Regions from separate parts of the Homo sapiens genome. Here region 2 is linked to region 1. Evidence: fine-mapped expression QTL. A gene starts in region 1. The other region holds a variant in brackets. All regions are shown on one strand. Distances are from middle to middle. Region 1 holds the start of FBXL19 (F-box and leucine rich repeat protein 19). Region 2 overlaps BCL7C (BAF chromatin remodeling complex subunit BCL7C).

Evidence for each region.
Region 2: its variant is fine-mapped to the expression of FBXL19 in monocytes after LPS (Quach 2016, PIP 0.95).

The regions. Positions count from the first base shown.
Region 1 is chr16:30,912,563-30,927,563 of GRCh38, forward strand. FBXL19 (F-box and leucine rich repeat protein 19) reads left to right here and starts at 11,010. Exons shown (of 11, transcript NM_001382779.1): 1 at 11,010-11,897; 2 at 13,169-13,369; 3 at 14,746-14,889. The coding sequence starts at 13,193. FBXL19-AS1 (FBXL19 antisense RNA 1) reads right to left here and starts at 10,707. Exons shown (of 1, transcript NR_024348.1): 1 at 6,757-10,707. RefSeq lists enhancers at 9,080-10,048, 9,789-10,608, 10,049-11,016, 10,639-10,728, 10,769-10,928.
Region 2 is chr16:30,877,121-30,892,246 of GRCh38, forward strand. It overlaps BCL7C (BAF chromatin remodeling complex subunit BCL7C), which reads right to left. Exons shown (of 6, transcript NM_004765.4): 5 at 11,740-11,825; 6 at 10,675-10,870. The coding sequence ends at 10,745. The region is part of intron 2 of MIR762HG (MIR762 host gene); the gene reads left to right. Among named protein-coding and RNA genes, the nearest start is that of MIR762, 9.2 kb to the right of the region's middle. RefSeq lists enhancers at 5,520-6,020, 10,336-10,837 and a silencer at 7,825-7,904. The variant C/T (reference allele first, on the strand shown) is at 7,275.

The sequences.
Region 1 (15,001 bases):
ATCACTTGAGGTCAGGAGTTTGAGACCAGCTTGGCCAACATGGTGAAACCCTGTCTCTACTAAAGATATAAAAATATTAGACAGGTGTGGTGGCACAGGCCTGTAATCCCAGTTACTAGGGAGGCTGAGGCAGGAGAATCACTTGAACCTGGGAGGCGGAGGTTGGAGTGAGCTGAGATCGTGCCACTGCACTCCAGCCTGGGTGACAAAGCAAGACTCCATCTCAAAAAAAACAAAAAAAAAAAAGAGAGAGAGACAGGGTCTTGCTCTGTTCCCTAGGCTGGACTGCAATGGCACCATCATAGCTCACTGTAGACTCCACCTCCCAGGCTCAAGTGATCCTCCCACCTTGGCCTTTCAAAATGTTGGGATTACAGGTGTGAGCCACTGCACCTGACCCCAGTAGCTATTAACACAGCACCTACTGTGTGCCAGCACCAGGGTGAATAATGAGGCAGGTAAGGTCCCTGCCTCACGGGTACACAGTCTGGTCGGGGAGACCAGCACGAAACATGTGAATTAACACACAGCAAGGTTTCCTAAAGTGACATGGTGCTGAGAAGAAGCCCAGACAGGTTGGTGTGATGAGCTGGGTGTTCGGAATACTTAGATAAGGAGCCTGAGGCCCAGAAAGGGGCGGCTACTTACCTGGAGTCACACAGCAGAGTCAGGGCAGATGCTGGACTCCTGTCCCCAGCTTGGGGCTGGCTGTGGGGTTCCAGATCTGAACTGTGAGCTGAAGGAAGGAGGAGGTTGAAGGAAAAGATGGATTCTGAGGTGAGGGGTCCTAAACAGGCTCTCCAAGGCTGGGGGCTGCTAGGGCTGGCCGGCAGGGCCTGTGCCAGGCAGGTGGTGATATCAGGGGATTATAGGAGGCCCATTAAGTGGGTGCACCGAGGCATGGGCCGTGCCATGGTAGTAGAGCAGGGGGAAGAGGAGGTACAGGAGGGGGAGAGTGAGGCAGATACTCGATCTGGTACTATTCACAGGTGGACGGCCTACATGGGGCAGGCCTCACCTGGGAGGGCAGGCTAACCCCACCAGAGCCCACCACCACCCGCCTCTCTCTGGGGCTTCCCTTTCTCTCTCTCTGACCCCCACCCCAGGTGGCTTTTGTTTTTGTTTTTGTTTTTTGAGACGGAGTCTCGCTCTGTTGCCCATGCTGGAGTGCAGTGGCATGGTCTAGGCTCACTGCAACCTCCACCTCCTGGGTTCACACCATTCTCCTGCCTCAGCCTCCCGAGTAGCTGGTACTACAGGTGCCTGCCACCACGCCCGGCTAATTTGTTGTATTTTTAGTAGAGACGGGGTTTCATTGTGTTAGCCAGGATGGTCTCGATCTCCTGACCTCGTGATCCACCCTCCTCGACCTCCCAAATTGCTGGGATTACAGGCGTGAGCCATGGGCCTGTCTTTTTTTTTTTTTTTTTTTTTTTTTGAGATGGAATCTTGCTCTGTCACCCAGGCTAGAGTGCAGTGGTGTGATCTCGGCTCACTGCAACCTCCACCTCCTGGGTTCAAGTGATTCTCCTGCCTCAGCCTCCCAAGTAGCTGGGATTACAGGCACATGCCACCACACCTGGCTAATTCTTATATTTTTAGTAGAGACGGGGTTTCACCATGTTGGCCAGGCTGGTCACAAACTCCTGACCTCAAGTGATCCTCCTGCCTTGGCCTCCCAAAGTACTGGGATTACAGGCGTGAGCCACCACGCCCAGCCCCCTCAAGGTGCTCTTCACATCTGGAGGAATTAGCCGCATCCCAGGCCCAGCTCTGTTGTCCAAGGCATCTGTCTCGGTAGAGGTCAGAGGTCAGCAGCTCTGCCCCCTCTACCCCCATCGTGCCCCACCCTGCAGGCCAGCTCATCTTCTGTTTTGGTTACACCAGAAGCTGAATTCTTGGGAATCCCAGCAATTTAGGAGGCAGTGGGCTTCGGTTCAAGTCCTGCCTTTGTTCATCTTTTTTGTTTGTTTGTTTTGAGACAGTCTCACTCTGTCACCCAGGCTGGAGTGCAGTGATCTTGGCTCACTGCAACCTCTGCCTCCCAGGTTCAAGCAATTCTCGAGCCTCAGCTTCCCAAGTAGCTGGGATTACAGGTGTGTGCCACCAGGCCCGGCTAATTTTTTGTATTTTTAGTAGAGACGGGATTTTGCCATGTTGGTCAAGCTGGTCTTGAACTCCTGGCCTCAAGCAATCTGCCCGCCTTAGCCTCCCAAAGTGCTGGGATTACAGGCATGAGCCACTGCGCCCAGCTCCTGCCTTTGTTTATCACTAGCTTGGACAAGTTCCTTAACCTCTCTGAGCCTCAGTTTGCTCCCTTATCTGGAAACTGGGATAATAATTCCCACTCACAGGTTCTAACTCACAGGGCACACCCACCAAGTGCCCTGACCCCTCCTATGAGGCCTCTCCTGGGCTTGTCAAGGGTTGCCCCAGTAACATATAATGCCGCCAACCAATGGCAAAGACTCAATGTCCCATGAGCCTGTGCCTGGAGCCCAGCCCCATGCCCCGGCTACACATGTGCTCCCAAGAGATCTGGTACCTTTGCTCAAGCATGACCCAGTGTTGTCCAGAAAACCACACAGTGGGGCCCATTCAGAACAGAGGCAAGGGTGCTGGGCGCAGTGTCTCACACCTGTAGTCTTAGCACTTTGGGAGGCTAAGGTGAGGGGATCGCTTGAGGTCAGGAGTTCAAGACCAGCCTGGGCAGCATAGCAAGACTCCTGTCTCTACAAAAAAATACAAAAATTAGCCAGGCAAGGTGGTGTGCACCTGTAGTCCTAGCTACTCGGGAGGCTGAGATGGGAGGATTACTTGAGCCTGGGAGGTCAAGGTTTCAGTGAGCTGTGATCACCCCACTGCACTCCAGCCTGGGTGACAGAGTGAGATCCTGTATTTAAAAAAAAAAAAAAAGGCCGGGAACGGTGGCTCACACCTGTAATCCCAGCACTTTGGGAGGCTGAGGTGGGCAGATCACAAGGTAGGAGTTTGAGACCAGCCTGGCCAACATGATGAAACCCCATCTTGAACCCGGGAGGTGGAGGTTGCAGTGAGCTGAGATTGCGCCACTGCACTCCAGCCTGGGCGACAGAGCAAGACTCTGTCTCAAAAAAGAAAAAAAAATAGTACTTAAGAAAAAGATTAATAACGTTATCATTATTGTTAAAATACCTGTTCATTAGAAAACTTGAAGCAGATCATAAATGAACAAAGAAGAAACCAACAAACCACCCTATTTTACCACCCAGAAATAACTATGACTGTTAACATTTAGTGAGCATCATTCTAGACACCTGATCAGATAAATAGAAAAAGATTTTATGACAATCAATTAATACTAGATATCCTATTTTTAAAATTACATTTAACTTTATTTGAATTTAACAAAAGGAACAGAAATAGAAGTTTAATTGAAAGAACTGTGGAACTTCAGATAAATGTTTCTTCACTATAAATAATATTTCCTGTAAGATTCTTCCAAGTTTAAAAAAAAAGATTTGAAAACCATGAAGGATAAACTCATTATTTATTTATTTATTTAATTTTATTTTTGTGAGACAAGAGTCTCGCTCTGTTGCCCAGGCTGGAGTGTAGTGGCACAATCTTGGCTTAATGCAACTTCCACCTCCCAGGTTCAAGTGATTCTCCTGCCTCAGCCTCCCGAGTAGCTGGGATTACAGGCGCCTGACACCACACCAACTGATTTTTGTATTTTTAGTAGAGGGTTTCACCATGTTGGCCAGGTTGGTCACAAACTCCTGACCTCAGGTGATCCGGCTGCCTCAGCCTCCCAAAATGTTGGGGTTACAGGTGTGAGCCACTGCGCCTGGCCCCCCTAAGGTGTTTCTTCACACCTGGAGGAATTAGCCTCACCTCAGGTCCTGCTCTGTTGTCCAATGCGTCTGCCTTGGCAGAGGTCAGAGGTCAGCAGCTCTGCCCTCCCACCCCCACCTCCATTGTGCCCTACCCTGCAGGGCGACTTGTCTCCATCTTTGTTTTGGTCACACTAGAAGCTGAATTCTTGGGAATCCCAGCAATTTAGGAGGCAGTGGGCTTTGGCTCAAATCCTGTCTTTGTTCATTTTTTTTTTTTTTTTTTGAGACGGAGTCTCACTCTGTTGCTCAGGCTGGAGTGCAGTGGCGCGATCTTGGCTCACTGCAACCTCTGCCTCCCAGGTTCAAGCGATCCTCAAGCCTCAGCCTCCCGAGTAGCTGGGATTACAGGCATGCGACACCATGCCCGGGTAGTTTTTACATTTTTAGTAGAGACCAGTTTTCACCATCTTGGCCAGGCTGGTCTGGAACTCTTGGGCTTAAGTGACCTGCCTGCCTTGACCTCCCAAAGTGCTGAAATTACAGGCATGAGCCACCATGCCCAGCCCAGTCGCTATTTATTTTTAATATTTTCCTCAGTCTTCCCCTACACCCAGATTTTTTCATTATATTACTACTTTCAATTTACTAGTATTCATAACATGTATAGTATATTCCATTCTGTACCTCAGACTTTTTAAATTATTTAATCTTAGATTGATATTTAAATATTTTCAATGGTAGCCAACTATGTATTTATTTATTTGTATTTTTTATTTTTAGAGATGAGGTCTCATTCTGTTCCCCAGGCTGGAATGCAGTGGCTCAGTCATGGCTCACTGCAGCCTTGACCTCCCAGGCTCAATCTCCTACCCCAGCCTCCCGAGTAGCTGGTACTACACGTGGGCACCACCATACCCAGTTGATTTTGATTTTTTTTTTAATTTTGCCAGTAGAAACCCCGCTATTGGCCTCGTGTGGTGGCTCATGCCTATAATACCAGCACTTCCAGAGGCCGAAGATCACTTGAGCCCAGGAGGTCGAGGCTGCATTGAACTATGACTGCACCACTTCACACCAGCCTGGGCAAGAGAGCAAGACCCTGTCTAAAAAAAGAAAATAAACCCAAACCCAGCCATTGATGCCATCCATTCCCCCAGGATCACTGGCCAGTGAAGTCTACTAACATGTTCCTCGGCCATCTGAAGCCATACACACTGCTGGGCACTTCACTTCTGGGATTTTCAGTAACCAGATCCACTGCAGCTTGGAGAGCTTGGCTTTTTGGTGATTGCTGATCCCAAGGCTGACCCTGAGCTTCTCACAGAGGCATTTTCCGTTCACTCGCCCAAGTTGGTCAGTGTCAATCAGACTCCTCTGTTCTATATCGATGTTGCCATCCCACATAACAAGAGTTCAATTATTGGGTGCCTTGCAGTGGGTGGTATCCCAGAAAAAGCCTCCATCCTGTGGCACTAACTTCCCCTGGGAACCGCAGGAAGCTGTGCTTGTCATAAGGGCTGTCCACAGGTTTTCTAGTTCTTCTCCCAAGCATGTGGCAAGAGTTGGCTTCTCTAACCCCTTTAATTAGTTATGGCTATCTCTGTAATATATATACATATTTTTTGAGACGGAGTCTCGCTGTCGCCCAGGCTGGAGTGCAGTGGCGCGATCTCGGCTCACTGCAGGCTCCACCCACCGGGGTTCACGCAATTCTCCTGCCTCAGCCTCCTGCGTAGCTGGGACTACAGGCGCCCGCCACCTCTCCTGGCTAATTTTTTGTATTTTTAGTTGAGACGGGGTTTCACCGTGTTAGCCAGGATGGTCTCAATCTCCTGACCTCGTGATCCACCCGCCTCGGCCTCCCAAAGTGCTGGGATTACAGGCGTGAGCCACCACGCCCGGCCTATCTCTGTAATATTTTTAGACAGGGTCTCACTCTGTCGCCCAGGCTGGAGTGCAGTGGCTCGATCATGGCTCACTGCAGCCTGGACCTCCTGGGCTCAAGCGATCCACCCACCTCAGCCTCCCGAGTAGCTAGGACTACACATGTGCACCACCACTCCAGCTAATTTTTGTATTCTTTTGCAGAGACACAGCCTTGCCAAGTTGCCCACGCTGGCCTTGGGCTCCTGGGCTTGAGCAGTCTGCCCAACTCAGCCTCCCAAAGTGTTGGGATTACATGCATGAGCCACCTTGCCTGGCCAGGGTTAGCTATTTGACAGGTCAATAAAATGTGAGCTGAATTGACATGTCACTTCTAGGCAGAAGCTATAAAAACCGCCTTCTTCTTCTTCTCCTTCTCCTTCTTCTTCCTTCTTCTCCTTCCTCCTCCTTCTCCTCCTTCCTCCTCCTCCTTCCTCCTCCTTCCTTCTTCTCCTTCCTCCTCCCTCTTCTTCTTCCTTCTTCTTCTTTCTTCCTCTTCTCCTTCCTTCTTCTTTCTTCCTTCCTTCTTCTTTCTTCTTCTTCTCCTTCTTCTTCTTCTTCTTCTTCCTTTCTTCTCCTTCTCCTCCTCCTCTTCTTCTCCTTCTTCTCCTTCTTCTTCTTCTTCTTCTTCTTCTTCTTCTTCTTCTTCTTCTTCTTCTTCTTCTTCTTCTTCCTTTCTTCTTCTCCTTCTCCTCCTCCTCTTCTTCTTCTTCTTTTTGAGTTTCACTCTTGTTGCCAGGCTGGAGCACAGTGGCATGATTTTGGCTCACGGCAACCTCTGCCCCCCCGGTTCAAGCGATTCTCCTGCCTCAGCCTCCTGAGTAGCTGGGATTACAGGTATGTGCCACTGTGCCTGGCTAATTTTGTATTTTTAGTAGAGACAGGGTTTCTCCATGTTGGTCAGGCTGGTCTCAAACTCCCGACCCCAGGTAATCCGCCCACCTTGGCCTCCCAAAGTGCTGGGACTACAGGCATGAGCCACCACACCCGGCCCTTTTTTTTTTTTTTTTTTTTTGAGACTGAGTCTCGCTCTGTTGTCCAGGCTGGAGTGTAGTGGCATTGTCTTGGCTCACTGCAGCCTCTGCCTCCCAGGTTCAAGCAATTCTCATGCCTCAGGATCCTGAGTAGCTGGGACTACAGGTGCACGCCACCACGCCCAGCTAATTTTTGTATTTTTAATAGAGACGGGGTTTCACCATGTTTGCCAGGCTGGTCTTGAACTCCTGGCCTCAAGTGATCCAGCTGCCTTAGCCTCCCAAAGTGTTGGGATTACAGGCATGAGCCACCATGCCCGGCCTTTTCTTCTTCTATTTTTATTTTTTTAAATACAATCCACGGTCCTGGACTAGATTTCAGGACTTTTCAAGAGAAGCTGGAAATCCATTTTGCCTGAGAAATGTGTTGTTGTTGCTATGCCAAATTAAATGCACACATGACTGGATTTGTTGTTTCTGCATGTTGTAATAGTTCTGAGCATGAGTTCGGGAGTCTGGGGTTTGAATTTTGGCGGTACCACTCATCCATTCTGCATAATTGAGGGTCCCAGTTTCCTCGTCTCTAAAATGGAATTCTACCTCATAAGGTTGTGTGGGTTTTTTTTTTTTTGAGATAGAGTCTCGCTGTCGCCCAGGCAGCAGTGCAGTGCTGTGATCTTGGCTCACTGCAACCTCCGCCTTCCAGGTTCAAACAATTCTCTTTTCTCAGCCTCCTGAAGAGCTGGGACTACAGGTGCACACCACTACACCTGGCTAATTTTTCTATTTTTAGTAGAGATGGGGTTTCACCATATTGGTCAGGCTGGTCTCGAACTCCTGACCCCAGGTGACCCACCTGCCTTGGCCTCCCAAAGTGCTGAGATTACAGGCGTGAGCCACCATGCCCGGCCCTCAAGATTTTTATGAGGACCACATGAAATGCTGAAAGCACTTAGTAGTATGTCCAGGAGCAGGGTCTTGCTCTGTCATCTAGACTTGAATGCAGCGAGTGGCATCGTCATAGCTCACTGCAGGCTCAATCTCTCAGCCTCAAGCAATCCTTGCCCCTCAGCCTCCTAAGTAGCTGGGACTACACGTCCAGCTAATTTTTGTATTTTTGTAAAGATGGGGCCTCACTATGTTGCCTTGGCTGGTCTTGAACTCCTAGTTTCAAGTTATCCTCTCACCTTGGCCTCCCGAAGTGTTGGGATTATAGGCGTGAGCCACTGCAACTGGCCAGGACAGTGATTGATTGATTGATTGATTGGTTTGAGACAGAGTCTCACTCTGTCGTCCAGGATGGAGTGCAGTGGCACGATCTCAGCTCACTGTAACCTCCACCTCCCGGGTTCAAGCAATTCTGCTGCCTCAGCCTCTCGAGTAGGTGGGATTACAGGCACATTCCACCATGCCCGGCTAATTTTTGTATTTTTAGGAGAGACAGGGTTTCACCATACTGGCCATTGCTGGTCTCGAACTCTTGACTTCATGATCCGCCCGCCTAGGCCTCCCAAAGTGCTGGGATTGACAGTGGCATTTAAATAGAGACCTTTTAGAAAAGTGGGAAAGTAGAAAAATAAATAATAAATACATAAATAGAGACCTGTAAATGATGAACAGTGAACTTGGTGGAGAAGTGAGATGGGCATGGGGAGGATAGCCCTCAAGCAGAGGGAACAGGGTAGAAATCAATCATGCAACACCAAATTCAAGCAGTGAGGATAGAGGGGACAGCCAATCCTCTAGGGAGGGCTAAGGATTTCCTGACTGATAAAGCCTGAGCGGCAAAGAAGCCTCCTATCCAGCCTTGGGCAAGTCTCTGCCAAGCTGGGACTTCACACTACACTGGCCAGCCATTGACTTCCCTGATAGAAAAACCACAACCAACAAGTCCTCGCTGGGGCTGGTCTGCCAAACACAGAAGACAGAGGGAAGGGGAGGGGGCTGTCTTGGGGTCAGAAGTGAGCAGGTTTTCCAGGGGAGAAGGAAGATTGAGAAGAGGGGTATGGCTGCTGGCTCACACCTATAATCCCAACACTTAGGGAGGCCAAGGCGGGAGGCACACTTGTGGCCAGGAGTTCGAGACCAGCCTGGGCAACATAGCGAGACTTCGTCTGAACAAAAAAAAATTATAGTTTAAAAATTAGCTGGGTGTAGTGGCGCGTGCCTGAAGTCCCAGGTATTCACAAGGCTGAGGGAGGAGGATCGCTTAAGCCCAGGAGGTCGAGGCTGCAGCAAACTATGATCCTGCAACTGCACTCCAACCCAAGTGACAGAGCAAGACCTTAAAACACACACAAAAAAAACCAAAAAACGGCAGAAAGATGAGAAGCCGTTCCATTTGCATAGGCAGTTGAAGTGTCTAGGCAGAGGCCTCCAAGGCTGACTGGATATCAGGCAGGGGATGAGGCTGGACAGCCTGCAATGCCTCCAACTCCAGGTTGCGGAAATCGTGTTTGTAGTACCTCAGTCGAATGGAGATTGAGCGCCCCCTGGGAGCAGTGCTCGGTAACAGACGCTGGAGGACCCCGATGAGGAGGGGCGGGGGTCGGTTCAATCTGGGAGGAGCCTGCGGGTCAGTTTTCTTCTCACAGGAGCGAACTCTGTCCGGCATCATGGATTCCTGGGCTCCCAGAACGGCTGGGCTGGAAGGGACCTTAGAAAGGGATCTACCACCGCGTGCCCCGTGCCAGAGTTGGGCACTTTGGTGACAAGAACATTGGCTTGTTTAACACTCACAACTGTGCTTCGAGGTGGGGATCATTATCCCCATTGTCCCCATTTTGCAGATGAGAAAAAGCAAGGTTTGGTGGCTTCCCGGGGCGGGGCGGGGATTCGCTGTGACTCCAGGTCCTTTTCCCCGGAGCCCGCACGTCTTGTAAGACACTGATTCCCGGAGGTCTGAGGAGCAGGAATCGAGTGGGAGGTGCCCAGGCTTTCTAGGGAACAAGAGTGTGAATGCACTCTCGACGAGAACCACGCCCCCCTGTTCGACAAGACTGATTCCTGCTGCCTTCCTTTAAGGGCCCTCCCCTGAAACGCGAAGTCCTCGCCCCATGGAGAGGCGGACATTCTTTATTCCCGGATCGCCCGACGTTTTTCTCCCCCACCCGCACTGATCCCCACTGGTGACATAAATCCTTCCCCTCCACTCGCGAGTGAAAGCTTGGGACTACATTTCCCGCCAGGCTGTTCAGAAGCCGGTGGCGGAGAGAGGAGAAAAGAGTCTTTCCGTTTCCGTCGCCTCGCAATTTGGCGTGTCCGCCGGGATTCACATTTCAACAGCGACGTCCTTTCTCTGTTGGACTCGGCAAGGAACTACATTTCCCAGCAGGCACCGGCGCAGAGGTCGAGGGGCGAGGTCGCCATCTTTTTCGTAGTCCTCTCCCTCATTTCCGCAGGGAAGAGGCCAGACGCCTGGACTACACATCCCATGTCGCAGTCGCCCCGGCCCTGCAGCCGCCATCTTTGCCGGTGGCCCCGCCCCATCCCCTTCCATTGTCTCGACTTGAGATGATAGACGGGAGCCGGGAGACTGCAACTCCCGTCAGGCCGTGCGCCACTGGTGGGGGGGATTTCGAGACCACAGGCGGGCGAGGTGCCCAAGGTGGTGGAAAGCGGAGACCGGGAGAGGCTAGGTAGCCTGCCATCTTTACGGTAGTCTCCTCGTCCTCCTGGTTCCGCCATTCTTAAGGAACACTGGAAGGCTATAAAACTACTAATCCCATCGCACCTCGTAAGATCGACTACTAGTCAGGTGTATGTCCCTCTTCCGCCATCTTGCTTGTAGTCCTCTTTCCTTTTCACCTTTCCATTGTTCCTGACGAGTAGAAATGGCAGCGGGAAGGCAGCAGATGGACTGCGACTCCCGTCAGGTACCACACACGCGGAGGGTTGTGGACAGGAGGGCGTGTGAGTGCCTGGGAAGGAGGTCGGGTCGGGGGAGAAGGCCATCTTGTTTGTAGTCATCGTTCCCTCTCCTTCTCGATGTTCTGCAACTGGGAGCCTCGGGGCAACGGGACTCTAACTCCCGGCATCCTCGGCTCCCGGCTGGGCACGCCCTCCGCCGTCCTGTTTGTAGTTCCCGCTGTCCCCAGCGTCCTATTGTTCCCCCGTAGCATCAGTGGCCGCAGGACTACAACTCCCGTCGAGCCCTGCGTGCGTTCGTCCTGGAAAGTGGAGGTGGTGGAGGAAGGAGGGGGAAGGGGGCGGGGTTCCTCTGGGAGAAGGAGGGAGTAAAGAGGGGGAGGAGGAGGAGGAGGAGGGAAGGAGGAGGGAGGGGAGGGGAGGGGGGAAGAGAGGAGGAAGGAGGAAGGAGCTGAGGAGGGATGAGAGAGGCGGCCAGGGCCCCGGGCCGTAGCAGCGCGGGGCTGGGGGACCAGGGGGGCTGAGACACCCCAACTGCCCCCTTCCCCTTTCCCTCTCCCCCTCTATCCTTTCCTTCCACCCTCCCGCTTGAGGAGGGGGATTTATTCAAATTTTATTTAAATCCCTATCTCCCGAGGGTCGCGCGCTTGGGGGAGGGGGAGAGGTCGGGGGTGCGCGCGGGCTGGGGGGGGCGGGGCCGGAGCAGCTTCCTTCACCTCCCCCTCCGCTCGCCTCGCAGCCGTAGGGCAGGGGGTCGCAGTCCAGGGGCGGGCCCAGGGGAGGGGGGCAGGTTACAGCGACCCCCCCCTCCCCGGGAACCGGCGGTGGGCGGGCTTGAACCCCGGAAACGGTGGGGGGGGCCCAGGCCTGGCACTGGACCCCTGGGCAGTGGGGTCCGGGAAGGGGCCAGTTAAAGGGCCAGGGGCGCTGGGGAGAGGCGGGGCGGGGTGGGGGGAGGGGAGCTGGGACTCGGACCCGGGACTGAGTGGGCCCCGGGCAGAAGCTGAGCACCCTGCGCCCAAGGAGCCCCCGTTGGCCTGGGGGGGCTGAGGGACTGAGCCTCCCAGAGCAGGACCTCCCCCTGGAAGGGCCGCGCCGCAGCCCGTGGGAGGGCCTCGCCCCCGGCGCCCCCCATCTCCACTCGCCGCCGTCCCGGCCTCCGCCGGAGGGAGGGGCCGAGCGCCCTCGGGGGGCCGTGGACCCCGGCGTTCTGAGCGTTCCGCGCCCCGCGCCGCCCGGCCCCCCCGCCGCCGATGGCCGCCGACCCGCCGGGAGCTGCCGAGAAGGGAGAGATGGCTCCCGGGACACGTGTGAGGTGGGTTCATGCGGCTCCTCCTCACCCCCAGACCTGGGCAGCGCCCACTCCCATTCATCCTCAGCCCGGCCTCTCTCTACCTTCCCCGCCCCCAGCCTCACCCTCTCTCTACTCCAAACTCATCTCCAGCCCTCCTTCCTATGACCTCTCCACCCTGGGGAACTGGCCCTCCTTCCTAGACCCTGCTTCCCCTTGAAAGCCCCCACCCCCGCCTGCAGTCGCCGCCCTCCAGGCCCCTCCCCTGGAGCGCTGGAGGGCCCCTTAGCCCCATGGATGGGTATGAAAGTCCCCGGAAAGGGGGAATCTGGGGTAAGACTGACTGGGAAGAGACCCTCCAGGCTTCTAATTCCACATGGGATCTTGGAGGATCTGGTTTCCATGGGAGGGGGAGCCCAAGGGATTCTAGATGATTAGGGATGAAAGCAGCCCGGGAAGCTGGGGGTCCTAGGACTGAGCCCATCCTCAGTTCTGGGAAGATGTCAGGCTGGATTCTAGAATCCCAAGGAATTTGGGAGATTGCCCAGGTGGACCTGAGGGATCCAAGAGGAGGGTGTCCTGGAGGAGGGAACCCTGTGGGGAACAAGAGGGGCTGAGATCTTGGGCTGAGAAGGGTCTCTGAAGAAGCATCTCCAGGGCTGTCAGAGCTCTGGGGAGTTAGTGGGCAGAGGAGATCGTTAGGGACTTGGGGGCAAGGATCTCGCTGGATCTGGTGAGGATAACTGGGTTGAGGGGAAGAGAGATTGGATGGCTGCTGTGGATGAAAAGGTTGGTGGGGCGGGGGGGAGGAAAAGTCCGGAGCTTCCGTCTAGGAATCTCTGGGTATCTGGGAGGTGAATCTGGGCAGTTTACCCCAGATTGAGGTTGGGGAGAGCCTGGGATATTCTACACTCGGATAACAGGGGAAGAGTTGGGATCTCTCCAAGCTAACACCACGGACAAGGAGTGCCTGGCCTTTCCAAGGAGCTCCGGTGTGGGGATGGCAGAGGAGAGGGCCTCGGTGTCCCCTCCTGCTCCCTGGGCTAGGGAAGGGACCCTGAGGAGGCGGTAGAGGAGCGAGGCCAGGAAGCAGTTCTTGGGCTCCTCTTGAGCTGCTGCAGGGAGACAGGCCTTGAGTAGAGGATTGGCCCCCAGATACACAGAAGGGGGTGACCTCCTTGTCCCCCTGAGGAAGAGGGCAGGCTCTAGCTGCCTGTAGGTGGAGGGACCTGTCAGGGGTCTCCCAGGCCAGGGCCCCAGTGGGCCCATCTGACCCTGCCACCATCCACCTACAGCCCTCGGCGTTGCTGACGCCCCCAATGTCGTCGAGCAGCCGGGGGCCGGGGGCCGGAGCGCGCCGACGCCGAACCCGCTGCCGCCGCTGCCGGGCCTGTGTGCGAACTGAGTGCGGGGATTGCCACTTCTGCCGAGACATGAAGAAGTTCGGGGGGCCCGGGCGCATGAAGCAGTCGTGCCTGCTCCGGCAGTGCACTGCCGTGAGTTCTGCCCCCACCTTTGGGCTCTGCCCACCCTTCCCAATACCTTCTTGGAATGGCTGGTGACTGCCTCCCAGCCTGTACTGTGGAGTGGCTGTTTGTTCACTCGTTCATTTCTTCCCTTCATTCACTAGTTTGTGTCAGTATCCATTTTTGTCCTCAGCTCCAAGCTGGGGGCAGTGTCCAGGTGCACAGAAGGATCTGACCCAGTCCCCACTTTCAGGCTCTTCCCAGCTCTCAGAGTCACACCCCCGCAGAATGCCCAGCCCCTGCTCTATCACCCCCCAAGATGTCTCTGTGCAGGAGGGGGCCCATCCCCAGAGATGGCCCCCTTCCAACAGGTCTTGCCCTTCTCTGGCCTCTTCCTCACCCAGGGTGGTCTTGGATTTGAGGCTAAGCTCACCCTTTATGTGACCTTGAGCAAATCATGCTGAATGAACCTCAGGTTCCTTCTCTGTAAAATGTTTCCTTTGCTGAGTTGTAAAGATTAAACAATGGCATGGATGCGAGTGTGTCTACCACAAGGCCCAGCACACAGTAGGGATCGGGGAAGCATGGGTTTCCGCCCTGCCTTCCTCATCCTTTGAGCCTCCCTGGGCTCCAGAGCACGGCCCCTCCCCAGCAGCCGCGAGGAGCCAGCTGCATCCTGCGTCCCCCTCCCCACTCTGCCACCTCCCTCTCTTCCTCCTGCCACTCTTTCCTGGTTGGTCTCTTCACCCCTCAGCCCCTCACTTCTTTTCCTTTATCCCCCAACCCCTTGCCTCACTTTTCCTTCTCCCCCTACCTGCATCTTCCTTGATCCTGCCGCATCCTTGTTATGACTCAGTCCTACCACTGTCTTCCTCAAAGTCACACTGTCTGAGGCTGCCCCCACTTCCCCAAGACTAGTGGCTTCCCTAGTGTTCCCAGGGGGTCTTGCCAAAACCGGATTCATTGTGGGATTCAGAGCAACCCTTGGGCTGCTCATGGAGCGACCTTGGTATCACCCTAAGCTGTCTTCCCCACCCTCTGAGTGTTACTGTCCTCCTCTCCAAAGCCAGCTGTAATTTCAGGGTCCCACTGGCCCTGGGTCCAGCTATAACAGTCACAGGTGATAACAGCTACATATCAGTGTCTCTCGCGTATTATTTTGCTCTCCCAAGAGTCCTGCGAGGGAAAGATTCTTAGCCCCATTCTGCAGATGCAGAAACGGAGACTTAAGGAGGTTAAATCAGTTGCTTGAGGTCACACTCCCAAAAGGAGCAAACTCAGGATCAGACCCAGCTTGACCCGTGGGTGCTGCACCTCATCCGTCACCTGGCCAGGGTCCCTAGAAGGAAGGGTCTTTCCCCTGTTGTTAGCTTTCGGGGCCCCTGATGTCCCCTCTCCCCCAACAGCCCGTGCTCCCACACACAGCTGTGTGCCTCTTGTGTGGGGAGGCTGGGAAGGAGGACACGGTGGAGGGAGAGGAAGAGAAATTTGGTTTGAGCCTCATGGAGTGTACAATCTGCAACGAGATCGTCCACCCCGGCTGCCTGAAGGTGATGGCCCTGGGACCCCGGCGTCTGGGGTGGGGCAGATTGTCAGGGAGCAGAGAGTGGGGGATCACCCTGGCTCTGGGCTTCCTGGCCAACCCCCCACTCACTGCCCTCC
Region 2 (15,126 bases), 35 kb before region 1:
GGGGACTGAAGGGCAGAGACTCCGCCCCCAGGGCAGTCAGTGTTCTGCACCCCCTACCCCCCTACCCCACCAACCTCCGCCCCATGACCACTCCAGGAGGCAAACTCAGTATCTCAGAATATCTGCTTTCAAGGGTAGCTGGAGTCCAGATTTCTTTTTTTATTTTTGGTAGAGACAGGATCTTGCTCTGTCGCGCAGGTTGAAGGGTAGCAACACATAGCTCACTGTAGCCTCAACTCCTAGGCTCAAGCAGTCCTCCTGCCTCAGCCTCCCAAAGTGCTGGGGTTACAGTGTGAGGCACGTCACCCGGCCTGAGTCCAGATTTTTTTTTTTTTTTTGAGACGGAGTCTCGCTCTTTCACCAGGCCCGAGTGCAGTGGCACTATCTCGGCTCACTGCAAGCTCCGCCTCCTGGGTTCAGGCCATTCTCCTGCCTCAGCCTCCCGAGTAGCTGGGACTACAGGCACCCGCCACCGCGCCCAGCTAATTTGTTGTATTTTTAGTAGAGATGGGGTTTCACCGTGTTAGCCAGGATGGTCTCGATCTCCTGACCTCGTGATCCACCCGCCTCGGCCTCCCAAAGTGCTGGGATTACAGGCGTGAGCCACCGCGCCCAGCCTAGTCCAGATTTTTATATGAAATCACTTGATTTTAATGTTGCCAACATGTTCAACACCATGTAAGCCAAACAAATCACATTCACAGGCTCACAGCTCCAAGCTTTGCAGCATGTTAGCATCACCTGAGGAGCTTGTAAAAATCCCAGGGCCCTTGGCCGGGCGCAGTGGCTGATGCCTGTAATCTCAGCACTTTGGGAGGCCAAGGCGGGTGGATCACCTGAGGTCAGGAGTTCGAGACCAGCCTGGACAACATGGTGAAACCCCATCTCTACTAAAAATACAAAAATTAGCCGGGTGTGGTGGCAGGCACCTGTAATCCCAGCTACTTGGGAGGCTGAGGCACGAGAATGGCTTGAACCTGGGAGGCGGAGGTTGCAGTGACCCAAGATCATGCCACTGCACTGCAGCCTGGGCGATAGAGCTAAACTCAAGACTCAAAAAAACAAAACAAAACAAAAAATCCCAGGGCCCAGGTTGCACATGATACCAATGTAAAATGTCTGGGGTGGGGCCGGGTGTGGTGGCTCATGCCTGTAATCCCAGCACTTTGGGAGGCCGAGGGAGACGGATCACAAGGTCAGGAGATTGAGACCATCCTGGCTAACACGGTGAAACCCCGTCTCTACTAAAAATAAAAAAATTTAAAAAAATTAGCTGGGTGTGGTGGCACGCGCCTGTAGTCCCAGCTACTCGGGAGGCTGAGGCAGGAGAATCACTTGAACCCAGGAGGCAGAGGTTGCAATGAGCCGAGATCGTGCCACTGCACTCCAGCCTGGGCGACAGAGCGAGACTCTATTTCAAAAAAAACAAAAATGTCTGGGGTGGCTGGGCGTGGTGGCTCACGCCTGTAATCCTGGCACTCTGGGAGGCCGAGGTGGGTGGATCACGAGGTCAGGAGCTTGAGACCAGCCTGACCAACATGGTGAAACCCAGTCTCTACTAAAAATACAAAAATTAGCTGGGCGTGGTGGCACGCACCTGTAATCCCAGCTACTCAGGAGGCTGAGGCAGAAGAATCACTTGAACCCGGGAGGCAGAGGTTGCAGTGAGCTGAGATCGTGCCACTGCACTCCAGCCTGGGTGACAAAGCGAGACTCCGTCTCAAAAAAAAAAAAAAAAATGTCAAGGGTAGAAGGCAGCCATCAGAATATTTAAATGATTCCCCAGGTGATTCCAGTATGCACACTACCAGAGACTACGTGCTTTCAGTTGCCAGGCTCAGCCATGGGGAGCCATGGGAAGTTTTAGAACAGGAGAGGAGCCCAGTTTAGAGTTTAAGGAAAATCATTCTGTAGGAGGAACAGAATGTAATCTTGTGTGAAAAGGGTCCGGAAGCCCCAAGGGCAGTGGCAGGATCCTGCTAGGGTGATGGTGATCAGCCATCCCAGTTTGCTCAAGACTGGGGTGTCTCCTGGGACATGGAACCTGCAGTGCTAAAACCAAGAAAGTCCTGGGCAAACAGGGATGCTTGGTCATGCTAGATTCTCCTGATGTAGTTCTGTTTTCCCAGATTTTTGGGGAGACTGATGCCACAGACTTCGCATTCTAGAAATTCCTAAGAAAAGGCTGTCCATCTCCCTGTGGTGCATTCACCTGAGTCTCTGAGCCCTGGCAGGGCCCATCTCTTCTCCACCCAGCAGAGTGATCCTGGCCTATGGAATATAATTTAGCAGTAAAAAGGAACAAACTACTGATTCACACAATAATCCGGATGACCCTCAAGAATATTAGCCTGAGTAAAAGAAAACAGATGCAAAAGAGTTACATACTGCTTAATTCTATTTACATGAAGTTCCAGAACAGGTTCACCCAATCCGTTACTTTAAAACAATCAGGCCAGGTGTGGTGGCTCACGCCTGTAATCCCAGCACTTTGTGAGGCCAGGAGGATCCCTTGAGGCCAGGAGTTCCAGACCAGCCTAGGCAACACAGAGAGACTCCCCTTCTCTACAAAAAAAAAAAAAAAAAAAACTGGGCACGGTGGCTCACATCTGTAATCCCAGCACTTTGGGAGGCTGAGGCGGGCGGATCACGAGGTCAGGAGATCGAGACCATCCTGGCTAAAATGGTGAAACTCCATCTCTACTAAAAATACAAAAAAATTAGCTGGGCATGGTGGCAGGCACCTGTAGTCTCAGCTACTTGGGAGGCTGAGGCAGGAGAATTGCGTGAACCCGGGAGGCAGAGCTTTCAGTGAGCCAAGATCACGCCACTGCACTCCAGCCTGGGTGACAGAGCGTGATTCCGTCTCAAAAAAAAAAAAATGTTAAGTAGTTGGGCGCAGTAGCACATGCCTGTGGTCCCAGCTACTCGGGAAGCTTAGGTGGATCACTTGGGCCCAGGAGTTCAAGGCTGCAGTGAGCTATGATCTAAAACAAACAAACAAAAAAAAACACTTTACCCAGTTACTTGGGGGAGGACAGACATTGTGGCATCATTAAAGTTGTTTGAACAACAACAAAAAGGCTGTGTGCATGGCTCACACCTGTAATCCCAGCACTTTGGGAGGCAGAGGTAGGTGGATCGCTTGAGCCCAGGAGTTCAAGACCAGCCTGGGCAATATGGTGAGACCCCGTCTCTGCAAAAAATACAAAAAAAAATTAGTGAGCTGTGAACATGCCACTGCACTCCACACTGGACAGCAGATCAAGGCCCTGTCTTATTAAAAAAGTCAGAACAGGCTGGGCGCGGTGGCTCATGCCTGTAATCCCAGCACTTTGGGAGGCTGAGGTGAGCGGATCACGAGGTCGGGAGATTGAGACCATCCTGGCTAACATGGTGAAACCCCGTCTCTACTAAAAATACAAAAAAAAAAAAAAAAAGTCAGAACAGCGGTTGACTCTGGGGAGTTGGAGATGAGAAGGGGGCAACGGGAACTTTCTGGCAAGTGATAGTGATGTTTTGTATTTGAGAACAGTTTCCTTATGCAGATGTATGCATTTGTTTTGTTCTGGTTTTATTTTTATTTTTATTTTTTTTAGACAGGGTCTTGCTCTGTTGCCCAGGCTAGAGTGCAGTGGTACAATCATAGCTCACTGCAGTGTTGAACTTCTGGACTCAAGTGATCCTCTCACCTCAGCCTCCCAAGTAGCTGGAACTAAAGGTGTGCACCATCATGCCCGGCTAATTTTTTTTTAAGTTTTTGTAGAGATGAGGTCTCACTATGTTGCCCAGGATAGTCTTAAACTTCTGGACTCAAATGACCTTCCTGCCTTGGCCTCCCAGTGAGCCACCGCACCTGGCACTATGCTTTTGTTAAAATTCACTGAATCAAGCAATTAACACCTATGCATTTTACTATATAGATATTTTACATCAAAGACGGGGGAAAAAACCTGTGAATGAATACTGGGCTGTAGTTAACAATGTGCCTGCAGGCCGGGTGCCGTGGCTCATGCCTGTAATCCCAGCACTTTGCAAGGCCCAGGCGGGTGGATCACCTGAGGTCAGGAGTTCAAGACCAGCCTGACCAACATAGTGAAACACTGTCTCTACTAAAAATACAAAATTAGCTGTGTGTGGTGGCGAGTGCCTGTAATCTCAGCTATTTGGGAGGCTGAGGCAGGAAAATCGCTTGAACCCAGGGGGCAGTGGTTGCAGTGAGCCGAGATTGCACCTCTGCATTCCAGCCTGGGTGACAGAGTGAGACTCCGTCACACACACACACACACACACACACACACACACAACAAAAAATTAGGAACAAAACCTAAGTCTGATTATGCTTTTCTGCTCAGAACACTCCACGATACCCAGAGGAAAAGCCAAGTCTTGACAGTGGCCTCTGAGCAGGGCGACCATAAGTTCTGCTGGCCCAGCTTCTGCCTGCCTTCCCAGCGTGATTAGTACTGCCCTTGTTTTCATTCTCCCAGTGTGAAGGATAATTTAAGTGCTTGCCCTGCCTGCGAGGCCCAGCTGACCTGAACTCACTCCCCTGCCCCTCCCTCCCTCCGCTCCAGTCACACTGGCTCTCCTTTGCCCTGGCCATTCCCTCTGCCTGGAATGCCCTTCCCCAGAAACTTGCAAGGCTCTCTCCCTCACCTCCTTCCAGCTTTTCTTCAGCCTTTGCCTCAGTGAGGCCCCTGCCTCGCCCCCGCTTAAAATCACACCCTGCTCTCTCCCCATCTCCCGTTCTGTGCTTGCTTTTTCCAGCGCACTCTAACTTCCTGCTTAGGATATAACTGCCTGAAGGCAGGTGCCATGAGGGCAGGGATTTTTTTTTTTCCTGTGTTCTTTTTTTTTTTGAGACAGAATCTCACTCACCCAGGCTGGAGTGCAGTGGTGCGATCTCGGCTCACTGCAACCTCCGCCTCCAGGGTTCAAGTGAATCTCCCATCTCAGCCTCCCGAGTAGCTGGGATTATAGGCACCCACTACCAGGCCTGGCTAATTCTATTGTATTTTTAGCAGACATGGGGTGTCACCATGTTGGCCAGGCCGGTTTTGAACTCCTGACCTCAGGTGATTTGCCTGCCTCGGCCTCCCAAAGTGCTAGCCACCACGCCCGGCCATTTATTCTGTGTTCTTTAAGCTGCATCCTCAGGTCCTAGAACAGTGCCCAGCAAACAGTAAGTACACAATAAGTACCTATTGCTATGAATAAAGGGAATCCTCTGCCCTCCTGGGGCTTGCAGGCTGGTGCTGAAGAACCAAGCAGACAGGGACCACTACAAAGCAACAGCCACCACTTCACGACATAGCAGAGGAGGGGTCAGGGGCTGAGGGAAGGCAGAAGAGACACCCCAGAAGCTGAGACTTGAAAACTGCTTTGGCATCTGCCAGGCGAAGAGGGGAAGGGAGGGGCTTTCCTGGTGGAGCAGCCAGTGTGAGCAAAACCCAAGGGGTGAGAGATGGCAGCAGGCATCTGGGGGCTGTGAGCAGTTCAGAGAGTGACTGCAGGTGTGGGTATGCAGCAGGCTGTGGGCTCCATCCTGCAGGTAGTAAGGACAGGAAGGTTCTAACTGGGGGCAGTGGCATGGACAGATTTGGGTTTCTGAAAGATTGCCCAGCTACTGGGTGGAGCATGGATTGGAGGTGGGCACCAGGAGGCTGTTAGTTTTGCTGGCACCTAGTAAAGCAGTGTTGCCCTGAAGAAAGGGGCTAACTGGAAAATTACTTAAGACAGAGACCTAACAGGACGTGGTGGTTCCTGGAAGGTGACTCTGACTTCTGGTGTCACCATCTTGGCTGGCTCCTGGGATGGTAGGAATAGGTTGTGGGGAGGATGAGGCTGGGGTCTCTGGGATATCCCAATGGAGATGTGATGCAGCCATTTGGCTCCTGGAGTCTGGAGGTGGGGGTGGAACTTAGAGTCAGAGAATGAGGAACTGTTGATTCAAAGGGCAGGTGGGACCCAGCAGGGAGAGTGTGCACAAAGAGAAGCAAGTCCAGGGCAAGAGACAGTTCCCAGACCAGGAAGAGGGGAGTGCCCAAGGACAGATGAGGGCTCAGAGGGGAGGAGTCAGTGAGCCCCAGAGGTGGGGCCCGAGAGCCAGGGGTAGAAGGATTTCCACAAATAGAGTGTGGAATTTGGGGAGGAGGTGGAAAGGGGAGACAGCAAGGTGGTAAATAAGGGCTGTGGCTCTGGAAGAGATAGCTTTTTAAATTTACCATGTTCACTGTTTTTTTTAAGATACAGGGTCTCGTTCTGTCATGCAAGCTGGAGTGCAGTGGCACAGTCATATCTTACTGCCGCCTCAACCTCCTGGGCTCAAGCGAGCCTCCCGCCTCAGCCTCCCGCCTCAGCCTCCCAAAGTGCTGGGATTCCAGGTGTGAGACACCATATCCAGCCAAACTGGCTTTTTTTTTTTTTTTTTTTTTTTTTTTTTTGAGATGGAATCTCACTCTGTTGCCCAGGCAACCTCCGCCTCCCACGTTCAAGTGATTCTCCTGTCTCAACCTCCTGAGTAGCTGGGACTACAGGCATGCACCACCATGGCTGGCTAATTTTTGTATTTTTAGTAGAGACAGGGTTTCACCGTGTTAGCCAGGCTGGTCTCGAACTCCTGACCTCAAGTGATCCGCCTGCCTTGGCCTCCCAAAGTGCTGGGATTACAGGTGTGAGCCACCACGCCAGGCCCAAACTGGCTTTTAAACCAGGTCAAAGTGCCGGGCGCAGTGGCTCAGGCCTGTAATCCCAGCACTTTGGGAGGCCAAGGCGGGCGGATCACGAGATCAGGAGATCGAGACCATCCTGGTTAACACGGTGAAACCCTGTCTCTACTAAAAATACAAAAAATTAGCCGGGCGAGGTGGTGGGTGTCTGTAGTCCCAGCTACTTGGGAGACTGAGGCAGGAGAATGGCGTGAACCTGGGAGGCGGAGCTTGCAGTGAGCCAAGATCACGTCACGGCACTCCAGCCTGGGCGACAGAGCGAAACTCCGTCTCAAAAAAAAAAAAAAGCCAGGTCAAAGAATGGGGCATGAGAGGGTGGGGGCATGCCTGGGGGGAATCAGGACAGTTTCCTAGGCCCCGTGACCAGGAGAGAGTCAAGAATGGGGGAGACTCAAACTTTAGCTTCTCAAGGCTGCTCAGAAATGGACACCCTGTCTGGGGCCAGGCTTCTGTCCCCAGCCTCAGGGACAGGAGAGTCTCTGGTAACCTCATTTGTAACATGGGGCAATAGGACAAAACCTGCCATTTATTGAGCACTTACTA[C/T]GTCCCAGGCCAAAGGCTGTCTCTCCATGTGTGGCCTAATTTAACTCTCAGAATACTCTCATCAGGCTGATGTCACTATTATCTCCTATCTCCATTTGTTTTTTTTTTTTTTTTTTTTTTGAGACAGAGTCTCCCTCTTTTGCCCAGGCTGGAGTGCAATGGCGTGATCTTAGCTCACTGCAACCTCCTCCTCCCGGGTTCAAGAGATTCTCCTGCCTCAGTCTCCTGAGTAGCTGAGATTACAGATGCCCCGCAACCATGCCCAAGTAATTTTTCTATTTTTAGTAGAGACAGGGTTTCACCATGTTGGTTAGGCCAGTTTTGAACTCCTGACCTCAGTAATCCAACCACCTCAGCCTCCCAAAGTGCTGGGATTACAGGTGTGAGCCACCATGCCTGGCCTATTATCTCCATTTTATAGATGAGAAAACAGATGCACAGAAAGGTTCAGTCACTTGCTCAAGGTGATACAACAAATGAATGCAGATGCTGAGATTCAAACCCGGAACCTGAATTCTGAGCTTCAACACTGCACCACTAACCCACACAAGGGACTTTCCCATTTACAGAACACTCTCCTCCCTCGGGAGTGGTTGAGGGGAGTCATGAGGTGGCCACACACCCAGCAAACAGCCGACATTACCATGAAGATGGCCCTCCAAAGAAGTCCACATCTGAATCCCCAGAATCTGTGCATGTGTTGCTTTATATGGCACATGGGCTTTTGCAGGTGTGATGAAACTAAGGATTGTGAGATAGGAAGAGTGTCCTAGATTATTCAAATGGGCCCAGTGTCATCACAGGGTCCTTGGAGGAAGGAGGCAGGAGAGTTAGAGAAGATGTGACGATGGAGAGAGATTGGAAGATGCTACACTGCAGGTAGCCTCTAGAAGCCGGAAAAGGCAAAGAAAGAGATCCTCCTCTGGAGGGAACTACTGCTGAGACCTTGACTTTAACCCAGTGAGACTAACTTTGGACTTCTCCAGAACTGTAAGAGAATCAATGTCTGTGGCTTTTTCTTTTTTTTTTTTTTGAGATGGAGTCTTGCTCCATCACCCAGGCTGGAGTATAGTGGTGCGATCTCGGCTTACTGCAACCTCCCGGATTCAAGCAGTTCTCCTGTCTCAGCTTCCCGAGTAGCAGGGATTACAGGCGCCCGCCACTATGCCCAGCCAACTTTTGTATTTTTAGTAGAGACGGAGTTTCACCTTGTTGGTCAGGCTGGTCTCACACTCCTGACCTCAGGTGATCCACCCACCTCGGCCTCCCAAGGTGCTGGGATTATAGGCATGAGCCACTGTGCCTGGCTAATGTCTGTGGCTTTGAGCCCCTATATGTGTGGCAATTTGTTACAGCAGTGATAAGAAACAGTTACACTACATTGCAGCAAGCCTGGCTTCCCTGGACAGCACTGGCTCCACCAACACCACTGCAGCTGCTGTCGGAAGCATCCTTACATTTCCTTTGTTTGTTTAGACACAGGGTCTTGCTTTGTTGCCCAGATTTGAGCACAGTGGTGCAATCATCACTCACTGCAGCCTCAACTTCCCGGGCTCAAGCAATCTTCCCACCTCAGCCTCCCAAGAAGCTTGGACTACAGGCGCGCACCAGTATGCCTGGCTAATTTTTTCATTTTTGTCTTGCTTTGTTGCTCAAGCTGGTCTCAAACTCCTGGCCTCAAGCAGTCCTCCCACCTGTGCCTCTCAAAGGCCTGGGATTACAGGTGTGAGCCACCACACCTAGCCTACAGTTTTTAATGCTTCTTTAAAGTTCCAATTTGGTCCTCTCTGAACCTCAGTATCTTTCTTTATTAAAAATAAAAATAGGGCCAATATACATGACCCTATAGGCACAGAGTGAGAGGGCCTTATATTACTCGAAGCTTCCCACAAACCCCTGGGGCAGATGAGGCCTAGTTATTGTTCCCATTGCTCAGATGAACAAACTAAGGCTGAGAGTAGAAACAGCCTGCCTAGAGCCACTCAGGGAGTAACAGAGCCAGGACTTGAACCAGGGCTTCTGACTTGAGTTCTAGCACAGAGGTTCATGTCTCAGAGCCCAGCTCACATGCCACCTCCTCAGAGAAGCCTGCCTGGAAAACCCCAGCCCATTCATGTATTCATTTATTCATGAAGCAGCTGCTGGGACTGCCCTGTTCCCAGTGTTGTGTGGAGACCCCTCAGGAGCCCACAGCCTCGTAGACAAGACAGACACACAAACCACGGATCCCAGAACAGCCTGATAAATGATGAAACAAGGAGAATGAAGCCCAAGGGGTTGCTGGAGCTCAAAAAAGGGGAAACTCACTGAGCCTGGAGTCAGGGAAGGCTTCTCGGAGGAGATGGTGATTGAGATGGGGATAAGTTAGACCCAACCAGAAGTGTGGCCAGGCATCCCAGGTGGAGGAGTGGCTTCTTCAGGGCAGGGAATGGGTTGGTCATCCCAGGCCCCCAAGTCCCTCTGGGCCTCTGTGTTATTATGTATGAAACGTGAATAGGCTGGGCGCGGTGGCTCACGCCTGTAATCCCAACACTTTAGGAGGCCAAGGCAGGAGGAACACTTGAGCCCAGGAGTTCAAGACCAGCCTGGGCAATGTAGCGAGACCCCATGTCTACAAAAAATAAAATTAGCAGGCTGGGCATGGTGGCTCATGCCTGTAATCCCAGCACTTTGGGAGGCCGAGGCGGGCAAATCACTTGTGGTCAGGAGTTTGAGACCAGCCTGGCCAACATGGCAAAACCCAGTCTCTACTAAAAATACAAAAATTAGCCGGGCGTGGTGGCAGGCACCTCTAATCCCAGCTACTCAGGAGGCTGAGGCAGGAGACTTGCTTGAACCCAGGAGGCAGAGTTTGCAGTGAGGCGAGATTGCGCCATTGCACTCCAGCCTGGGCAACAAGAGCAAAACTCTCTAAAAAAAAATAGTGATAAATAAATAAATAAATAAATAAAATTAGCTGAGTATGGTGGCACACACCTGTGGTCCCGGCTACTTGGGAGGCTGAGGTGGGATGTCAAGGCTGCAGTGAGCCATGATCGCACCACTGCACTCCTGCCTGGGCAACAGAACAAGTCTGTGTCTCAAAAAAAAAAAAAAAAAAAAAAGAATCATGGCCTAGCTACCCAGAGTTTTGATAATTGTTAGGCCCAGGCGAGGGCTGAGCAGGAAGAGGGGTCCTGGGCCTCCCAGAGGAGGAGGTGAAGGTCGGGAGATAGGACAGACCTGGGAAGTACTGAGAGGCAGGGTCCTGGCTCAAGCCCCCACCCCACTCTGCCTTGTGGTGTCACTACAGGAAGGTCCTCTCAGAGCCTCAGTGACCACATCTGAGCAATGGTGCATGAGACAAAACTGTCTCCAAAGACCCTCCCCAGCCCTGACGGGGAAATGACATGACACAAAATTACAAAAGGGTCTTTATTTGTAAAAAGCCAAAGGGGCCCCTGGGGCAACAGGACAGGCAGGCCGGCTTCTCAGGGGTCAGGGGCATTTGGGCAGATGCGCTTGAGTGGGGGGGCACCCTCCGAGTCCTCTGTGTCACCCTGGGCTGCCTCAGGGACAGGTGGCACTGGCTCAAAGACAGGGTAAGCTTCGGGGGCCTGGAGAGGAAGGGTGGACAGGCGTGAGCTCCACAGAACCCAGGCGTCCAGCCTCTGAGCCTCTGCCTTCTCCAAAGCCTCCACTCCCCTCCCCTCCTGGGCCCGGGAGGCAAGCCCAGGGCCAGATGCCCAGGATGCAGAGGAAGCAGGCACCAAAAACAACAACGACAGTGACACTGTGTGGAGGAACGAACCTGATATTTGATATTTCTGAAAATGCCTCGAGGTAGCCTCGTGAGAAATGTCAGAGGTTTATAAGGAATTTTCTTATGCTAATTATACAGTTAGATATTTTTTGATATTTTTTGAAAATGCATGGAGGAGCGCCATGATTTTGTCAGGCTTTATTTATTTATTTATTTTTGAGAAGGAGTCTCGCTCTGTCACCCAGGCTGGAGTACAGTGGCGCGATCCTGGCTCACTGCAGCCTCCGCCTCCCGGGTTCAAGCAATTCTCCTGCCTTAGCCTCCCGAGTAGCTGGGACTACAGGCACGTGCCACCACGCCCGGCTAATTTTTGTATTTTTAGTAGAGACGGGGTTTCACCGTGTTAGCCAGGATGGTCTCGATCTCCTGACCTCATGATCCACCCGCCTCCGCCTCCCAAAGTGCTGGGATTACAGGCGTGAGCCACCACGCCCAGCTTTGTCAGGCTTTTAATGGTCTCAATCAGCCCTGATCCAGCCCTCAGCACTTTGTCTCTGAAACACCCTTTCTTTTTCAGTCCCAAGAACCCAGCCCCTAAGCCTTCAGCTCTGTCCCAGGTCTGCCTCTCCTCCAGGCCCTCAGGACGCAGGCTCCAAGCCTTCGACTGCCCAGATCCCCCATTCCCTCCAAGACCCAGGAGTCCAGCCTTCTGGCCTCTCTCACCTCAGCTTCCAGCAGTTCTGGAACAGGCTCCTCCTTGGTCAGCATTGGGGGTTCGTCGGTGCTGCCAGCAGTTATGCCCCCGGGATCTGGAACGTCAAGGTAACAAACATCCCCTGAACAGCCACTCTGTGCCAGCAGCACAGACAGTGGGGGAAACAGATGGTCACAGGCCCCAGTCACAGAGGGCAGAGGGCCATGGGAGCAGAGAGGAGAGAGCAGGAACCTGGCTGTGCCCCAGGAAGCAGAGGAGGGAACACTGATGTGGGAGCTCGAGGGTGATGCGGTGGACAGGAAAGTATGACACGTGAGACAGAGGGAATGCATGCTAAGTTGCCACAGATTCTGGGCTTGGACTGCCTGGGTTCAAATCCTGACCTTGGGCCAGCTACTTCATTTCCATGGGCCTCAGTTTCCCCATCTGTAAAATGGGGATAATGATAGTAATTACCTCATGTGGCTGTTGTGAGGGTCAGATGAGCGGATGCAGGTAAAGCACAGTGGCTGGCACACAGTAAGTGCTCAATAAATGCTTGCTACCATTTTTATATTAGCAAAGGTATACAACTGCTTGGCACTGTCTAGACCCAGACCCAGTCCACAGGCCCACATCAGGGTTTTCTTTTTGTGTGTTTGTTTGTTTTAGTTTTTGAGACAGAGTCTCGCTGTGTCCCCCAGGCTGGAGTGCAGTGGCGCGATCTCGGCTCACTGCAACCTCCGCCTCCCAGGTTCAAGTGATTCTCCTGCCTCAGCCTCCCTAATAGCTGGATTACAGGCATGTGCCACCACGTCCCGCTGATTTTTTGTATTTTTAGTAGAGACAGGGTTTCACATTCTGGGAGGCTGAGGCAGAAGGATCGCTTGAGCCTAGGAGTTTGAAACCAGCCTGGGCAACATAGTAAGACCCTGTCTCTATAAAGAATAACAACACTAATTAGCTGAGCATGGTGATGCATGCCTGTAGTCCCAGCTACTCAGGAGGCTGACTGAGCCCAGGAATCCAAGGCTGCAGTGAGCCGTGATCACGCCTCTGCATTCCAGCCTGGGCGACAGAGTGAGACCTTGTCTCAAAAAAAAAAAAAAAAAAGCAAAGCTTAAAAAATGAAGGAAAAAGTTGTTCTGGCAGCTGTGTGGAGGTGACTAGAAGAGACCAGCTGGAACCAAAAACGGGTGAGAAATGGGAAGGCCAGGGACAGGGAGCCTAGGAGGAAGAGGTGCCAATCAGACGGGTTTGACTGCATGGAAGAAAGCAGAGCTGGCTGGGCACGGTGGCTCAAGCCTGTAATCCCAGCACTTTGGGAGGCCGAGGCAGGTGGATCACGAGGTCAGGAGTTCAAGACCATCCTGACCAACATGATGAAACCCCGTCTCTACTAAAAATACAAAAATTAGCCGGGTGTGGTGTTGTGCAGCCTGTAATCCCAGCTACTCAGGAGGCTGAGGCAGGAGAATTGCTTGAACTTGGGAGGCGGAGGTTGCAGTGAGCAAGATCGTGCCACTGCACTCCAGCCTAGGTGACAGAGTGAGACTCCATCTCAAAGGAAAAAAAAAAAGCAGAGCTGATGAGGACACAGGCCCAAGATGCTGGCTCACTGGCTGAGTTACTTCTCTGGGTCTCAGTTTCCTCATCTATAAATAGGGATCATAACAAGATCATCACCCTTATAAGGTTGTAGTAAAAATTAAATGAGAAAAAAACACGTAAAGTGTTGGCTGGGCACGGTGGCTCACACCTGTAATCCTAGCACTTTGGGAGGCCGAGGCGGGCGGATCACCTGAGGTCAGGGGTACGAGACTAGCCAGGCCAACATGGTGAAACTCCATCTTTACTAAAAATACAAAAATTAGGCCAGGCACGGTGGCTCACGCCTGTAATCCCAGCACTTTGGGAGGCTGAGGCAGGCGGATCACCTGAAGTCGGGAGTTCGAGACCAGCCTGGCCAACATGGAGAAACCTCGTCTCTACTAAAAATACAAAATTAGCGGGGCATGGTGGTGCATGCCTATAATCCCAGCTACTCGAGAGGCTGAGGCGGGAGAATCGCTTGAACCCGGGAGGCAGAGGTTGCGGTGAGCTGAGATTGTGCCATTGCACTCTAGTCTGGGCAACAAGAATGAAACTCTGTCTCAAAAACAAACAAACAAATAAACAAAAAAAACAAAAATCAGCCGGGCATGGTGGCATGCCTGTAATCCCAGCTACATGGGAGGCTGAGGCAGAAGAATCGCTTGAACCTGGGAGGCAGAGTTTGCAGTGAGCCAAGATCGTACCACTGCTCTCCAGCCTGGGCAACAGAGCAAGACTTCATCTCAAAAAAAAAAAAAAAAAAGGCTGGGCGTGGTGGCTCGTAATCCCAGCACTTTGGGAGGCCAAGGCGGGCAGATCACCTGAGGTCAGGCGTTTGAGACCAGCCTGGCCAACATGGCGAAACCCCAACTCTACTAAAAATACAAAACCAGCCGAGCATGGTGGTTCATGCCTATATTCCCAGCTACCCAGGAGGCTGAGGCAGGAGAATTGCCTGAACCCAGGAGGTGAAGGTTGCAGTGAGCCAAGATTGTGCCGTCGCACTCCAGCCTTGGCAAGAGCGAAACTCTCTCAAAGAAAAGAAAAAGAGAAAAGAAAAAAACCCAACCACGTAAAGTGTTTACCAGGGCACCTAGCACACAGTAAGAGCTCAATAAATACTAGCTGTTGTTATTCCTATTATTGTTAATCACCCCTATGACTATCACTATTATTTATTCACTCAACAGATATTTACTGAGCACCTACTATGTGTCCCATATTATTCTGAGGATACAGTAGTGAACAAGATCACATAGGGCCAGGCACAGTGACTCACGCCTATAATCCCAGCACCTTGGGAGGCTGAGACAGGAGGATCATTTCAGGCCACGAGTTCAAAACCAACCTTGGCAACATAGCGAGACCCTACCTCTACAAAAAATTTAAGAATTGGCTGGGCATGGTGGCACACACCTGAGTCCCAGCTATTTGGGAGGCTGGGGCCAGAGGATCCCTTGAGCCCAGGAGTTTGAGGCTGCAGTGAGCTATGATTGCACCAGAGTACTCCAGCGTGGGTGACAGAGACCTTGTCTCTAAAAAAAAGGGGGGGGAGGGCCGGGTGTGGGTGTGATGGCTCACACCCGTAATCCCAGCACTTTGGGAGGCTGAAGGTGGAGGACTGCTTGAGCAAGTGAGTTTGAGACCAGCCTGGGCAACATGGTGAAACCTTATCTCTACAAAAAATACAAAAATTAGCCAGGTGTGGTGGCATATGCCTGTGGTCCCAGCTACTTGGGAGGCTGAGGCGGGAGGATCGCTTGAGCCCAGGAAGTTCAAGGCTGCAGTGAGCTATGATCACACCACTATACTACTCCAGCCTG